Linked DNA regions of Homo sapiens: all the other regions are linked to region 4. The links come from fine-mapping of genetic effects on gene expression. A gene starts in region 4. Each other region holds a variant in brackets. All regions are shown on one strand. Distances are between the middles of the regions.

Region 1 (4,181 bases), 92 kb after region 4:
CATGCTGAGTTACGGATACATTCTTGTAAACAAAGTTACCAGGTCAAAGGCAAGCACCCATTTCAGGCTTCTGATGTCACTGCTAAGTTGATCTTTGGAAAAGTTCACTTGACCAACAGTATGTCAAATTGCCTATTTCCAAGCACAACAGTAGCTTTAGAGATTCAGTGTTTAATCTCTGCCAGGCTTATTGGTGAACGCCATCTAGCATGTTGAATGACTCTGAGATGATGAGCCCATTTAGTTAGAATAAGGGGAGGCCTATCTGTAGAAATGGCATAAACCATCTCTACTCAGAGATCACCCTACCGGCCTGTGGGGCAGTGCCATGCTTGTGTGAAATAAGAATGTAGTTGGTGCGTCCCTTTAGGTAAGTCTCCGAGTTGGTCATGGAGCATCAGTCCTTTCCCCCAAGGATACTCTCTCCAAGTGATTTCTGGAAGCCCTAAGAGGGTGCCCCTGCATCCCCACAAACAAGCCTGACCCTTTGCCATTCTCCATGGGTAAATTACCCCTCGCCAAAAGGCAGAGCGTGCAAATTCCCGGAGAACGCTCCTGCTTTCAGACTCACAGGAACACTGAGAACTCCTGGCCGGTCTCAGAGCTGCTGTTCCTCCAGACTGTAGGCTGGTGCTGGGCAGAGGCCAAGAGGGAGAAGGGGCCTCCCCCAACACTCAGAGGTGAACTCGAACAACAGTGGTGAAGGGAAATTCTCAGCATGAGCCTGGGAAGCTGAAGGTTGGGGGCCGGAACAGCCTGAAGTCTTATTTACTCACATGAGGGGCTGTCACATGGGACCCTGGCTGGGCCTCTTGCCTGAAACATCTCCCTGTGGCTTCTCCCTGTGGGCAGGGCTTCTTCACAGTGTGTCACTGGGTTGCACAGGTGAGCATCTGAAAAGTGAGAGAGGCAGGCACAGAAGTCAGGTGCATCACTTTGACCACATCCTGTTCATTCACCTGCCAGGTTCAAGGGAAGGAGAAAAATCGTCCACCTGTAAATGGGGGAGCACACGTGGGACCAGAAATATTGCTGCATCCTCAATGGGAAAATGCTTCTGCAACACGGTTGAGAGTTGCCAATATTATCTTCATTTTGCCATCAACCTGCCACGTTTCAGGGAATTTTCTACTTGTTTGGATTGGCAATTTTCCACCTTCTCTTTTTCTCAAATATAGGTTGCAGAATTCGAGTCACAAATAGCGTGAGGGCAAACAACGCGGGCACAGTGGACTTCAGAGAAGCATTAATGAAACTTTAAATCGCACGTGGCCTCAGGATATCCCACACAGTGTCTGTGGCAATATGCAAATTTGTGGTATATGAAATTAGGAGTGTCTTATTTCAAACTCCAAATTGGCCTTCAGGAAATTGCTTCTGAAGTTACTGTATTAGTTTGCTAGGGCTGCTATAGCAAAATAAAACAACTAGGTGACCTGAACAGCAGAAATTTATTTTCTTACAATTCTGGGGGCTGGAAGTCCAAGATCAAGGTGTTAGCAGGGTCAGGTGTTAGCAGGGTTAGATCAAGGTGTTAGAAGGCCCTCTCCTGGGCTTCTGGATGGCCTCTTCCTCTGGTGTCCACACATCGTCTTCCATCTTTGCATGTTTCTGTCTTAATCTCCTCTTCTTATAAGGATACCAGTCGTACTGGATTAGAGGCCACTCTAATGACCTCCTTTACCTTAATTAACTCTTTAAAGACCCTGTTTCCAAATATGGTTACATTATGAGTTATTGGGGTGGGGGGCTTTAGAACTTGAATATACAAATTTGGGAAGACAAAATTAGCTGCAATAATCACTGCTATAGAAAGTCTTATGACAGTGACCTTGTAGGCTACTCCGGAGTCACATTTTCATCTGTCTTCTAGACATTTTGTGTCTGATAATCTTCCTTTCCTCAATGCTTCCTAATCCTGATTTTTCTGTGTCTGTTTAGAATATCTCATCCTCTCAAGGCATCAGGACAAAAATGAATA[A/C]ATAAAAAATAGTAACTAAACAAAAATCTCCAGTGTTAACTATAATTTTCTGTCTTTTTTTTTTTTTTTGTATCCTAAGTCCTCATGATTATTCCTTTGAAGTAACTTCCATTTTTGTCCCTTCTTACTTCTCCATCTCACTTCTGGCTTTTCTCATGGTTTTTGTCTTTTATCAGATTGATACAGTGTGTTACATTAATTTGTTTAAAACATTAAACCAACCCTGCATCCTTAGGATAAATCCTACTTTTTAATGTGCTTAAAAAAAAAAAAAGAAAAAGAATGGCCACTCCATAGGCAGAGCAGGGGCATGAGCCACTGGTTGCCCATTTTTATGGTTATTTCTTGATTATATGCTAAACAAGGGGTGGATTATTCATGAGTTTTCTGGGAAAGGGGTGGGCAATTCCCAGAACTGAGGGTTCCTCCCATTTTTGGACCATATAGGGTAACTTTCTGAAGTTGCCATGGCATTTGTAAACTGTCGTGGTGCTGGTGGGAGTATAGCCTTAAGGACGACCGGAGGTCACTCTTGTTGCCATCTTGGTTTTGGTGGGTTTTAGCTGGTTTCTTTACTGCATCCTCTTTTATCAGCAAGGTCGTTATGACCTGTATCTTGTGCTGACCTTCTATTTCATCCTGTGAGTTAGAATGCCTAATTGTCTGGGAATGTAGCCCAGTAGGTCTCAGCCTTATTTTGCTCACCCTATTCAAGATGGAGTTGCTCTGGTTCAAAGGCCTCTGACAATATCACCCCTACTTTTCTGTTCTTCAGACTTGTTGAGGAAATCAGCAAGCGTTAATGCTTTAAAATAAACTATGCAGACTGAGAAAAATTTTCAGTAGTACTTATCTCTCACTGTGCTGTTTTGTGGATATTTGTGTGTCCATCATGTCTCACGACCGTATCTCCTCAAGGAAAGACTGATTAGACATACATTTTTAAACTGCTTGGCAGGGCAGTGTCTTGGCACAAAGGGGTCTCAATGCAATCTACTGTATCAATGAGCGGACCATAGAAGAATGTGATGAACAGGTAGCTCACTCATACACTATAGCTTACTCCTATGTTATAGTTTACTTATGCACTATAGATTTTAGAAATTTCTATCATTAAAGAAAACAATTTCAAAGAGAAGTTTATAAAACTTAATAATCTTTAGGAAAGTGATATCTTTGGGGAAATCAGCATGAAACATTTTGTTGTTTTAAAGTGACCACAGAAAAACATGTTTTGATATTGCCTCTTTGATTTCTGTCACCTTATGATAATTTTTTTTCCTGGATTCAAGCAGACACACAATTTCTCTGGAAAAAAACTGTTTCTCTTCATAAAATAAAAAACAAACAAACATTGCATTCACAACTCTGCTCCCATAACTGCTTGAAGCCTCAGATTTTGTGAGGGGCACGTCCCTCCCATTTGTCTCTTTCAAAAATAAAATCTATGGGCCTTGGCTTCTGTAAACTCTTTGGAGAAAAATGCAAATCTTGAGACACTGTGTACTTTGTACTTCTGCAGTCATACAGTCATTTATGATCATCGGTGAGCTCCTCAATCACAGGAAACATCTGGCTGCAGCAGCAAATGTCTTATTTTACCTTTCTTCCTAGACAGAGGAACATCCTTTACTGCATTACAAAATCCTTGAATATCTTCACAATGCTATAAATCTCAACATGACCTGTATTTGTCCTTAATATGTTGAATGAACAAAATACCACAGCTTGACTTGCACTCAGAGCTGATCTAGTGACAGCTCTTTCCTCCCACCTTTGAGGAACCTCAAGCAGGAGGGCAAAGTGCATTTCTAGGTGGCAGATCTCACCGGGGCAGGGACAGGGGCAGGGGCAGCGCTGGCCCTGCAACTTCTGAGGTACAGCCAAATGCTACTTTTGCCTCCTGTGCAGAGTCCTGGGGTGGAGTCTCCTGAGTGGGCTTTTGTCCCCACACACGTTGGAGCATTCTGTGTGTGTGAGGGTCCATGTGGACTGCCTCCCGCCAGTGTCACTTAGGTCCCTGAACCCCCTCTCAGCTATGCAAAGGGAATGAAGTTCTCTGAGCTGTGCGAAGCTGCAGAAACCCATTCACCATGACCCATGCTTGGTACTGTCTTCAATTTTATACCTGCTGCCTGCAGACAAGACCCATCTTCTGGTTGAATTAAGGACAGGTATCAGTTTACTCATCTCCTTGGGT
Region 2 (4,181 bases), 76 kb after region 4:
TATGCCAAGAAATGGCAGAGTCCATTTAAACCCACAAACTTTTAGTAATTCAGGAGATGCAGTGTTGATACAAGGAAGTAAAAGATTCCAATGATCTGCCTTCAAGAAGTTCACAATACAGTTAGAAAAACAGAGACCCTACATTTACTGTTACACCATGGCCAGAATTACACCACCAGTGTGGACCTCCTGTGCCCTGGGAAGCCTGGAAGGGGAGTGAATGGGTAACTAGGAGCAGTGTAATTTCTTAAGCGATTTGATCTTTGAGGGGAACTCAGGTCTTTGAGATCGTTTACATTTTAAAATTTAAAATTTTACAATGTAAAATTTACTGTTACATTTACTGGGGTGCAGCCTAGTGAGCCTGCTGGTGCCCTCAGCTGCATGAGCACTTCTGCTCCAACCCACCCACTTCCTGCCACTCTCCCAGAGGGAGCCGGGTGAGAGAACATTGGCGTGTACACTGGATATGAAGTGTGGATGTGCATGAGTGAATTCTGGATTCGTGGGAGAACAGCATCACATAACCATGTGCAGTTTGCAGACAAATGTGGGATGATGTGTCCTTGAACACAATAATAGAATCACTGCATGTGTAGAGAGTGGTTCTGAAAACCTTTTCATAAAAGCGGAGATCACATGGGAAATGACTGGATTAATGAGGACCAGCGTGATGGACTTTTTAAAGGATTTTAGTAAGGCTAAGAAATGCCTACGCTGAGATGTGACTGGCATTCATTAAGGAATGCCCAAGTTTAGTCCTTTTCTTTTTTCTTCTCATCGTCCGTTTCTTCCTGTCTTCACAAAATGGAAGGCATTTATCAAATCAGGTCAACTGACTGCATCCAAACATCTCACTGCTGGGGAGGGACTGGCACCTACCTGGATAAACATAATTTCTCAAAAGTCAAATCTTTCACATCAGCTGAATCTCAGTATGGATCTATTCTTGGTAACGGCAATCTCATAGAAAGATATTACTTTTCTGAAAATTCAGTCATTCGTCATATGCATATGAAAAGTAAGACTTTGCAAAGCTTAAACAAATTTGTTAATTGTTAGCTACCCTACTCTTCACTCAGTAGGCTTAAACGAATTTTCTAAGGACTAACTGTCCTACTCTTGGCTGAGTATTCTCATTTGTGAAGCACTAGATGAGGAGTGATGTCGTGCAGAAGATCTAAGTCTACTGTGTACAGCTCTGAAGTAACAATCGAGGAGCGTCCTCAAGGCCTTGTTGTGAAGTTGCCGTGGGGATCACGAGGGAGCCCCATGAGATAGAAATAATTGGCTACTTTCCTGAAAAGGTAGGAGTTGAGCAAATCCTGAAGGGCAGATGTTGACAATCAATAGTTGTGCTTTTTATGCAAAGGAAAGAGTATTAGTGGATGAAAGGCAGTGAGATTGCATGTGTCATGTTGCAGTGGTTGGTGGTAAAGAGATGAGTTTGACAGGGACAGAGCATTTCTGTGGAGAGAAGCATGAAGGAAAGAGAGGAGTTAGACCTGGAAGAACCTCACAATGAGGATTTTGTCTACCTTTGTCGCAAAACAAAAAGAAAGAAACAAAAACAACTCTCACTTCTGCAGACAAGTGGCTTTCACTTAACTTTTGTTTTATGTTGTAGAGCTTCCTTCTTTCTGAAATAGAAACGTTTATGTGGAACACAAATATGTAGGACAGTTAAAGGCCGAGCCAGTGTGGCCATGGGGTGGGAAGGATGTGCTTTTCCTGCCCCATTACCCATGGGCCAGGGGCTGCCAGCACCAATAGAAACCTCCAATCAAATTGCT[A/G]TTTCTGAAAGAATCTGCACCCTGGAAGCCCTCCCTGGGAAGTGATAATCCATTCGTAGAGCCAGAGGCAATGACTACAGCACAACCAGGTGGAAAAGGTTTTGTAATTGCAGAGTGAGAGAAAGATGACAGGTGCATTGAGAGAATGAAAACTCCCTCGGGTGGGAGACTGTGCTTTTTTGTTATAAATGGACCCTCTGTTGTCTGCGTCAGCAAATGTCAAATTGCAAAGCCTGCAGATCAGGATACTGGGGCCAGTGCTCAGTGCTTAGAAAATAACCAACTGTCCTGTTTATCTTAAAACTCATCACTATTAACTTTACAGTTTAGTCAGGTTATTTCATTTCAGGAACTACAGTTTGCCAGTGTAGTAAAATTAAATTGGGACCCAGGTAACAACAAATCCTACTGTTGGGCTGTGTAAGAATTTGGGGAGCTTTTGAAGGTCATCCTTTGTGACAAACTATCAAAGTCATTTGGAAACAACAATGAGATATTACCCAACTCAGGTGGAGATAGAATTTTGCTCACTTTGGCAAGGATAATTCTGCCAACAGAAATAAAAGATTAGATGCTTGGAAACAACGGAGAGGAAGGGGTTGAGGGAAAAATCCAGGGCATGTCTGAATCGTCTGAATCCTGCGTTCACCTTGTCAGACCTGGACACCAATGTCTACAAAAATTTGACAGCCTAAAGTGGAAAACCAAGTGAATATGTCTAACTTTCAAATGGATGCATTAGAAAGAAGGTTGCCAACTTTTGTCTCTTTGGGAGAAGATTATTGTATCCACTAAATCACCTTTGGTTTACCTTTTTGGTTTACCTTTGGGTTTACCTTTTTATGATAAGATGGGTTTTGAAACACTTTCCCATAAGAAAGCTGGTCTATATTGCTTTTTTTTTTTTTTTTGGATAGAGTTTCCCTCTTGTTGCCCAGGCTGGAGTACAATGGCATGACCTAGATTCACTGCAGCCTCCGCCTCCCGGGTTCAAGAGATTCTCCTGCCTCAGGCTCCAGAGTAGCTGGGATTACAGGCACCCGCCACCATGCCTGGCTAATTTTTTGTGTTTTTAGTAGAGACAGGGTTTCATCATGTTGGCCAGGCTGTTCTTGAACTCCTGACCTCAGGCAATCCACCTGCCTCAGCCTCCCAAAGTGCTGGGATTACAGGTGTGAGCCACCACACCCAGCCTACATTGCTTTTATAATATCATCTCCAAAGTACTGCCGTCAGCATGCCCCACATCCAAGCTTTCCAATTCCCTGCAGCCCACTCTAGTAACACTCAAAGAATAGCTCTAAGGAAATAAAAACTACAGAAAAAGTCGTGATAGCCAACACTTTAACATAAAAAATGCCTAAAACCTTTTAAACTAAATTGTTTCTTAAAACAGAAGATTTTGCTAATTAGAATTAAGGCAGACTGTACTGAGATTATGTCAAGGAAAGCATTTTTGTCTGTGTTTAATTTACTACAGTTGTATTTAATTACACAGTTAAGAAGAGTAAGGAAAGTCTCAGGAGGGTGATCTTCGAGTACTCAACACCTAGGCATAAGAAACTTTGGAGTTTCCTGTATATTCTGTTTTTCAGACACACAAGGTCTCAACCTTTGCTATAAAGAGATACTACATTTATTTTGAATACTGAGAAAAATGACATTCTTCAGTAAATGCACATGGCAACTCATGTATAGAAACAAGCTCCTTGTTCAATGGACCTTCCAGTAACCATGGCAGCCACGAGTCTCTGGGATCATTTCCCTTAGATGCTGCCATGAGAATTCCAGTCTGTGGAAGATGGCACTAACATGGAATGCCTTCCTCCTCAACCTCTCAGCAATGTACACATGCCAACTACAGAAAAATGCTGAATAAGTTATAGTAAATGTAAAATAAAAGTGCATAGCTGAGATTGCAATAAAGAAAAATAAAACCACAGGTACCTAAAATGAGTGGGGATTTCCATCCAAAGCTTGAGTGGGTATTGAGCATGTTGAACATGAGAGTGGAACACCTCTGTGGAGACATCAGAAGCAAAGATTGTCTTGAGTACTAGATATTCAGTGTTCCTACAAGGACAGTTATTTTCTTGAGTTTGGTGGGAAGAGACTAGAATTAAACCTGTTTATGTAAGGCCAGAATATAAGGACTAAAAAACATCTGTTCACTGTCTTTTTTTTTTTTTTTTTTTTTTTTGAGATGGAGTCCCACTTTGTTGCCCAGGCTGGAGTGCAGTGGCACCATCTCGGCTCACTGCAACTGCCGCCTCCTGGGTTCAAGCAATTCTCGTTCCTCAGCCTCCTGAGTAGCTGGGACTATAGGCATGGCCACCAGGTCCAGCTCATTTTTATATTTTTAGTAGAGATGGGGTTTTGCCATGTTGG
Region 3 (4,181 bases), 49 kb after region 4:
CTTTTTGCTGGTTGTAATTATCCTGCAAGTGTCTGGGATCTCAGTGGAATAAAAGGCCAGCCTCCAGACAAATGGAAATGAGTCTAGGAGATGAAGGAAGAAATAAGTGAAAAGGTTCCCAAAGCAGGCAGTTCTGCAAAGGGAGCAAACATAAAATTGAAGAGGTATATGAAGGTCTTCTTCAATTTACCTTAATAATAAAAGTATCTATTTCCTTGGCTTTCAGAATTTAGCCCTCAGGGCAGTTAAATTGGAAATGATAGCGGTATTGTGTAATGTTTACTTTGAACCACACATGTAAGAATGATTTAGGAACTGGATTCTATTACAAATGCCCACATAAACCTCTAGGGCTCCCTCATCCTGCTCACATTTCAAACAGCTTGTCTCTCCACATCACCGCAAAGCTGCTTTTCTTGGGAGAATTCATTATAAAACTCGAAGGGCAGTTTGGACGAGGGCAACCATTAGGCTAGATCACTTACAAACTGGTGTAGGTATTGGAAAATGAATGGGAATAAATACTGTTTGAAATACTACAGGGAAGCTTACAAGCCTCAGCTTCCTGGTGTGACATCATTATTGTGCATGATCCTAGAATGAGTGGGAACGTGCCCACTTAGGCTTATTTCCATAGAAATGTCATTGGATTTTTTTTTTTTTAAACCAAGGAAACTCGAATCACAAAGTTGGTTCCAAGGCTGGTTCTTACACCATCTTGACAAGCCATTCATTCACACACCATCTCAACAAGTGACATCATCTTGACAAGACCTTGATCTTCCTCTGTACATCCAGGCAGCCAAGCTGTATGAACTGGAGCTTTCCATCTATAGTCTTCTGTTTCTTAGTATGCGGGTTATACAAGTGTTAACTCAGTGTAGATTGAGAAAAAAGAAAAACTACCAGCAAATGTTCTATTGAGACAAAAAAGATATGGGAGAGTGTTTTCAAAAATTATAAAGTTCTAGGCAAATGGCTGCCTTCTTATTACTAGTATTATAACTTTTGTTAAATATTTGATCGATTCCTCACTTTCCCTTAACAGAAATATGTTTAATGGACATTGGAAAGAGAAAATGTTGTTGAATTCTGAAAGTTTAGGTAAGTTATTGTATTAGTTTGTGAGGACTGTCATAACAAACTACCACATTCTGGGTGGTTTAAACAAAGGAAATTTATTTTCTCACTGTTCTGGAAGCACAGAAGATCAATGTCAGCAGGGTTAGGTTTTTCTGAGGCCTCTTTCCTTGGCTTGTATATGGCTGTCTTTTCCTTGTATTGTCACATGGTATTTTCCCTGTATATGTCTGTATTCAAATTTCTTCTTCTTGTAAGGACACCAGTCATACTGGACACCCTAATGACTCTATTTTAACTTAATTACCTCGTTAAACACCCCATCATCAAATATAGCCACATTCTGAAGTACCGGGGGTTAGGACTTCAACGTATAAGCCTGGGAAGGTGGATATAACTCAATCCATAACAGTTATTGCATCACAGTTTTTACAGCTTTATTGAATGATAACTGTCATACAATCAACTACACGTTTAAAGTTCACAATATGGTGACTTTTGACATCTGCATATCACTGAGTTGAAATAATGAACACCAAGAACTTTTCTGTGACCCTTTGAAACACATACTTTCCATCACTTCAATACCCCTGTTGTTGCAAACAACCGAGGGTCTGCTTTATGTCACTATAGAGTACTTTACATTTTCTAGAACTTTCTATGAATTGAATCATATGCTATGTACTTTCCTTTTCTCTGACTTCTTTCAGGCAGCATAAATGTTTTAAAATTTGTTTATGTTGTTGCATGCATCAGTAGTTTATCCCTTGTTATTGCTGAGTAATATTCCATTGTATGAATATATCATGATTTGCTGATTCATTCACATTTTGATGAAAATTTGGGTTTTTCCAGTGTTTGGCTATTTCAGATAAAGCTGCTGTGACTTTGGTGCACAGGAATTTGTGTGACTATATGCTTTTATTACTTCAGCAGATCCCTAGATATGGAATAACTGGGCCATGTGAAGGTAATGTTTTTAGAAACTTCCAAAGTGTTTCCCAAAGAGGTTGTGCTACTTTATAAGA[A/G]ACGGTTTTATTTTTATTTTTTATTTTTTTGCTTCACATCCTCACCAGGTATACTTGTTCTGGTCAGTCTCTTTTGATTTTAGCTATTCTCATGTTTGTGTTGTGTTATCTCATTGTGCTTTTAACCTGCATTCTCCTAATGACTACTGATGTTGAGCTTATTTTCAGCTGTTTATTTGCCATTCATTTATCATCTTTGGTAGAGTGTCCGTTCAAAACTGTTTTCCATATTTTATATTTTATCATTAGGCTGTAAGAGTTTTATTTTATATATTCAGAAAAAAGTTTTCATCAAATATATATTTTTTCCCATTTGGTGACTTACAGTTTCATTTTTAATACATATTTGGAGAGGAGAAATTTTTAATTAAAATGAAGTCCAAAGTTCTTTTCCTTTTTTAAAATTGTTAGTGCCTTTTGGGTTCTACTTAAAAACATCTGCCAAGCTCAAGGTCTCTAAGATTTTCTCCTATGTTTTGTTTGGGAAATGTTATGATTTTATCTCTTAAATTTAGGTTTATGACCCATTTTCAGGTAGTATTTATGTATTATGTAAGGTAAGGGTTGTGGTTCATTTTTCATGCATATGGATAATGGATATCCACTTGCTCCAGCACTATTTATTTAAACAATTGGACTTTCCTTATTGTGTCACCTTGGTACCTTTGTCAAATTTGAATTGCTCGTCAATAGTTGACCCTTGAACAACACAGAAGTTAGAAATGCTGATTCCCTGTGTAGTCAAAAATCCACATATAATTTTTGACTTCCCCTAACTTAACTACTAATAATTTGCTGTTGACTGGAAACTTTACCAGTTTCATTATGGCACTCATTATGAAGTTTTTTATCCTCATTGTCTTCATGTTGAATGCAAATAAGAGGAGGAGGCAAAAGAGGAGAGGTTGGTCTGGCTGTCTCTTGAGTGGCAGAAGTGCAAGAAACTCCACATATGGTGGAACTGCACAGTTCAAAGTTGTGTTGTTCAAAGATCAACTGTACAGTGTGGCTGTGTTTCTGGATTCTCTAACCTGTTCCATTGATTTCTATGTTTATCTTTATGCCCATACAAAACTAGCTATTATAGGTTTACAAAGTTTTGAAATCAAGTAGTGTAATTCTCCAACTTTGTTCTTCTGTTATAAAATATGTTATTTCTAGGTTCATTGCATTTCCATACAAATTTTGGAATGAGCATTTCAATTTCTGCAAAAAAAATTATTCTCAAACTTTAGTTTTAATTGCATTGGGGAAAACTGACATCTTTACAATACTGAGTCTTTCCTTCATAAAACATAGGATACTCTTCTATTTATTTAGACATTTAATTTCTTTCAGCAATGCTTTATAAATTTTAGTGTACACATTTTAGAAAGTTTTTGTCAAATTTATCTAAATATTTCATTTTTTTCATGTGCTTTTAAATGGTATTTTTAAAAGTTTCAATTCCCAGTTGTTCATTGCTGGTGCGTAGAAATGTAATTGATTTTTGTATATTGACCTTTTATCGTGTAACCATGATAACTCAATTATTAGTTATAATAGCTGTTTTTTAAATGGCTTAAGATTTTCTACATAGATAAGCACATAATCTGCAAGTAAAGAAAATTATACTTTATTATTTCAGTCTTCGCATACTTTATTTCTTTTTCTTGTGTTATTGCACTGGCTATAACATTCAGTATAATGTTGAATAAAAGTGGGGAGAAGAGATTTTTTTACTTGTTTCTGATCTTTGGGGGAAAACTTTTTTTTTTTTTTTTTTTTGTTTTTTTGAGATGGAGTCTCGCTCTGTCGCCCAGGCTGGAGTGCAGTGGCACAATCTTGGCTCATTGCAAGCTCTGCCTCCTGGGTTCACACCATTCTCCTGCCTCAGCCTCCTGAGTAGCTGGGACTACAGGCCCCCGCCACCACACCTGGCTAATTTTTTGTATATTTAGTAGAGATGGGGTTTCACCATGTTAGCCAGGATGGTCTCGATCTCCTGACCTCGTGATCCGCCTGCCTTGGCCTTCCAAAGTGCTGGGATTACAGGCGTGAGCCACTGCACCTGGCCCATTTTTTTTTATCATT
Region 4 (4,114 bases):
CACTGCCAGTTCAAAGGTTACTTTTTTCCAACTGTCAGAATTTATAACCAACTCACCTTGCAGCCGTTGAAGGAAAAGAGGCTTGAATATTTTTGCCAGAAAGTTGACTGGATGGCATTCATTAAGTGAACATGAATGAAGAAGTTTCAATAATGATTTGGGTGGAAAATAATTGAAATGAGTGAATAGCACGTTTTCCAGCTTTCTAAATAAAGCAGAGGCATTTGGTGGCAAATAATTGAGTTTCCCAAATGGTTCCATTAAGGCAGAAATCTGACGAGGTGAAAATTTTTCTGTTTGGCAAACAAAAGTTTCTGCCACTGCATTGAGGATGGGTTTTGAAAGAATCAGTTCTCTACTGCAGTACTCCATGACCCTGCAGACAACTTCAGGATCCAACGTGAGGCACACCGCAGCTACACGATGCTCTAGGGCTTTTGTAAAAAATGTGTCATGGTGCCCAAAATATATGAACGCCTCCAAGACTCTCCTAAGCTCCTCGTTAGTGAAATGTGGGACATGCCTCACGACATATTTGCCCAATTTTATAATCAGAGGAAATGCTTGACTTTGATCAAGAACCACCAGGGCAGTGAGCATTTGGCTAATCAATTTAGGACTCAGGTTGGAAACTATTGATAGGGAAAAGTTGTTTATCTTATTTAAAAATGTTTGGTGTTCATCCACTTTTTCAGTACATGCCTGCAAGATTCTATAAAGGGCCACAATATCCTCCGGGGTAAATGTTTCCAATTTTTCACCTTGAAGTTGATTTATAATGAGTTCTAGTGTCACACAACCTGAACTGTGCAGTGTAATCAGACTTTCCCCAAGAATACAAAGATTGCGAACTTCCATGCCACCTTTTCTGAGACGATTTTGGCATTCTGCCACCAGGTTCAGCAACAGGCTACTTTGAGGATCCACATGCAACAGAATCAGAGCTTGCAAAGCAGTCACTAAACTAGTGTTTGACAGCTGTGAGGGCTCCTTTTCAAACTGAAAGCATAAAGCTTGAAAGATGCTATTCTCCAGTATTTCTTTTGGCAGCCCTTGATCACCATCCTTTTTTTCCACTTCACAAATTCGTTGTAAAGCTCCTGCTGCCATAGTGTCAGGCAGGGTTTCCATCGTGCTTATAAAACTTAGCACTTCTTCTGATGAAGTCAAGTTGCTCAGTCTCCTGTAAAACATCTGACTCTCCTCATTTTTAACATTTTGTTCAAGCCTGTCGCAGTCAGATACTTGAGAGAACACTGGTCCACCGAGTGGATGAAGGTCATTTCCATTTTTCGAATGAAACTTTTTACAATGGGCATGATGGAATTTGACCCCGAAAGGCTCAGGTTGTCGTGAACACAACCAAGGGCACAGACGCTCCTTGACTACCTTGTGAACATGATTTAGAGGTTTATTTTTTAAAGCAGCCAGAGCTCTATGCATCTGAAAATCAGATAAACGATAAAGGTTCTTCCTCAAGGTGATTAATGCCATACCATCAGATTCTCAATTTGATAACTAAATTAAAAAATTTAAAAACACATGGTTAAATACATTGAGAACATGATTGACCCAACATCAATGTTTATGAAACTACAAACGAGTATCTGGAAAAAAAAAAAAAAAAAAAAAAAGGATGGTTAACATATAAACACCAGAGGGGCAAAGTCTCTGCATCCTAGAGTTAGAAGAGTGGCTGACATTGAACAATAACAATCGCTATTACTTGCTAAACACTGTTGTAGGTATTCTATTAACTTACACAGATTCAGTACTTTTACTATCATTTTACACGAGGAAGAAGTTGAAGCACAAAGTTACTTTGCCCAGTTTATGCAGGTGGTTAAGTGGCAGAGCTAGGGTTCAAACTCAGGCAATGTAGCTCTTAAGGGTGGCCCTTAAATGTTGGTTGAAGGAAGAAATTGCATTTGGATAGAAATCAAAGAACAGGTAAAGTGGGCAAAATTAGGCGAGGTTAGAGCAAGGCAAGGGTAAAAACGCGCTGGAAAGGCCCTAAGCTGTTGGTTTCCCCTCGGTGTCGGGAGAAGGTTAGTGTTGAAGGAAAGGGTCTACTTTGTCAATGGAAACAAGGTAGGAAAAGAAAAAGCAAAACATAGATCAATGAAGGGAGAAGGTGGGGCGGCCAGTCCAGATCTAAAGACGGTGCGGGGGGATTTGGCAACACGTGTGTGCAAGACAGACAGACGGGAGGCCCCGCGGCGCGTTTTCCTAGGAATGAAAGGGACCCGCGGGGCGAGCACCCCCAAACTCGGCGCCCCGGGGACCTGCGCTGAGACACGGGCCGGGCGGCGCAGCCTGAGGAGAAAGCCGGCCAGGTCTTTGACACCCAGCCGGACCAACTGCGCGGAGACCCCGCGTTGACACCTACCGCGCTCTGCCGGGCAATCACTCCGGGTGGTCGCGGAAGCGCCTGGGCGTCGTGGGCCTCCGTAGCAAACGCGGGGCGGGAGCACGACTCAGGGCGGCGCAATGTGATTGGCCCAGGTCCCCTTCGGAGCTTTCTATTGGTCCTGGGTACCGAGCATGGGCGCTGCGTCAGTGCGCGCTGGCGCAAGGTTGGTGGAAGTCGCGTTGTGCAGGTTCGTGCCCGGCTGGCGCGGCGTGGGTAAGCTGCCTGTCGGCTACGGTTCCCGGATTCCGGCCGCTCGCCCTGCACTAATCTCCTGGGAGAGGCGGCCCGGGGCGGGGGTGGGCAGCCGGCTTGCGCCCGTGGTTCCCACGCCCTTCGGCCTCCGGGGGTCGCCGCGGGCGCGGGCTGGGGCTCGGACTTGGCCTTTGGCCTTTGGCTTTGGTGTCCCCGGGAGCGTGTCCTTGGGCTCGGCGTCGGCCTCTGCCGCGGGAGGCCCCTGGGCGGCGTGGGGTCTCTCCTCATGTTCTGCCTTTGGTTCTAGGCGCTTTCCAGGCCTAGGGAAACCGCACTCGGGGACGCGGGGAACTGGGGAACATGCCGGGTTGGGGCGGCGCGCTCCGGGGAACCCGGGACGTTCCGAGCGCCCACCCGGCGGGACGCGGCCGTGAGTTCTGCCCGCGGCCGTGAGCTCTGCCCACCGCCTCCGCGCCGCTTCCGGGGCTGCTGGGGCCCGGGCCTCCGCTGAGAGTCGTGGGAAGGTGGTGCCGGATTGTGGGGCAGTAGCAGGGATGAGGGGTTGATTGATCCTGGGAAGCCCTCAGGATGTGTGTTTCATGGGAAGTGATAGAAATTTTAGCTGTAGTAAGGTTTTCATTATCGTTTCCACCGTTTTCTGTGAGCTGTCAATGTGTAGTGTTTTCATATTGTTTATTCACTCATTCAGATAACTTATCGAGTACCAGTTTCATGCCAGGTGCCGTTCTGGGCGGTTCATTCACCGAAAGCCAAGCTTTTGGTTTGGGTTTCAGTTTAAATCTGTCTCTGCAAATTGACAGCCCACCAATTTTAGCCGTTAGATGAGTATGGAAAAAAATCTGTGAGTGTCGTTTGTTTTACTACTGCTTATCTCTTGCGGAAAAACGTGTTAGTAAAATGTTTAAGTGGATTGGAAATATTTTTTCGTTATATGCACCCGTTTGTATATATGCCCATACACTCACATATTTTTGATTTGCATTAAATAATGAAGGAGAGTATGTGCTTCAGTTACCTTTAGTACTATGATTAGTTTGTTTAGCGTTAGGATCAAATAAGAACCAAGAATCCTATCATTTTAATATAGTTTTTACTTTTATCTTTTTTTAAAAAGAGGAAACCAAAAGCTATTTAAGACTGTTGTGAATGATACTGTGGCTCAAGTTTTGTTCAGGTTCTTGGCTTGTGCCACATCGTTTTTCAGGTAGGTGGTAATACTCTCATTTTTAGGATAAAGGAGCTGTGGTACGGATCATTTGGGGAGCTTGTCTACAGGGTTGCACTTAGGAAACACAGATTCAAGCCCAAGTAGTTTCGAGCCGATCATCTGATTTCTGAGCCATGGAATTAGAGTTTCATTCGTACACTCTCCTTAATTTGATGAATTCTTATTTAGGCTCATTTGAGATTAGTGCTGAAAACAAATTTAGAAAAGGCCATTTCATATTATGTGTGGGTATTGTTGCATTGTTTCTTAAAGATTGAGGG

Evidence for each region. PIP is the estimated chance that this variant, and not a neighbour inherited with it, causes the effect.
Region 1: its variant is the best candidate, but not a certain one, in a credible set for the expression of MTRR in whole blood (INTERVAL, PIP 0.85).
Region 2: its variant is the best candidate, but not a certain one, in a credible set for the expression of MTRR in cerebellum (GTEx, PIP 0.51).
Region 3: its variant is the best candidate, but not a certain one, in a credible set for the expression of MTRR in platelets (CEDAR, PIP 0.51).

The regions. Positions count from the first base shown.
Region 1 is chr5:7,959,049-7,963,229 of GRCh38, forward strand. No RefSeq gene overlaps it. Among named protein-coding and RNA genes, the nearest start is that of MTRR, 92 kb to the left of the region's middle. The variant A/C (reference allele first, on the strand shown) is at 1,982.
Region 2 is chr5:7,942,319-7,946,499 of GRCh38, forward strand. No RefSeq gene overlaps it. Among named protein-coding and RNA genes, the nearest start is that of MTRR, 75 kb to the left of the region's middle. The variant A/G (reference allele first, on the strand shown) is at 1,794.
Region 3 is chr5:7,916,035-7,920,215 of GRCh38, forward strand. No RefSeq gene overlaps it. Among named protein-coding and RNA genes, the nearest start is that of MTRR, 49 kb to the left of the region's middle. The variant A/G (reference allele first, on the strand shown) is at 2,109.
Region 4 is chr5:7,866,590-7,870,703 of GRCh38, forward strand. It overlaps MTRR (5-methyltetrahydrofolate-homocysteine methyltransferase reductase), which reads left to right and starts at 2,559. Exons shown (of 15, transcript NM_002454.3): 1 at 2,559-2,626. FASTKD3 (FAST kinase domains 3) reads right to left here and starts at 2,442. Exons shown (of 7, transcript NM_024091.4): 1 at 2,390-2,442; 2 at 57-1,607. The coding sequence starts at 1,494. RefSeq lists silencers at 2,452-2,891, 2,902-2,951, 3,012-3,061.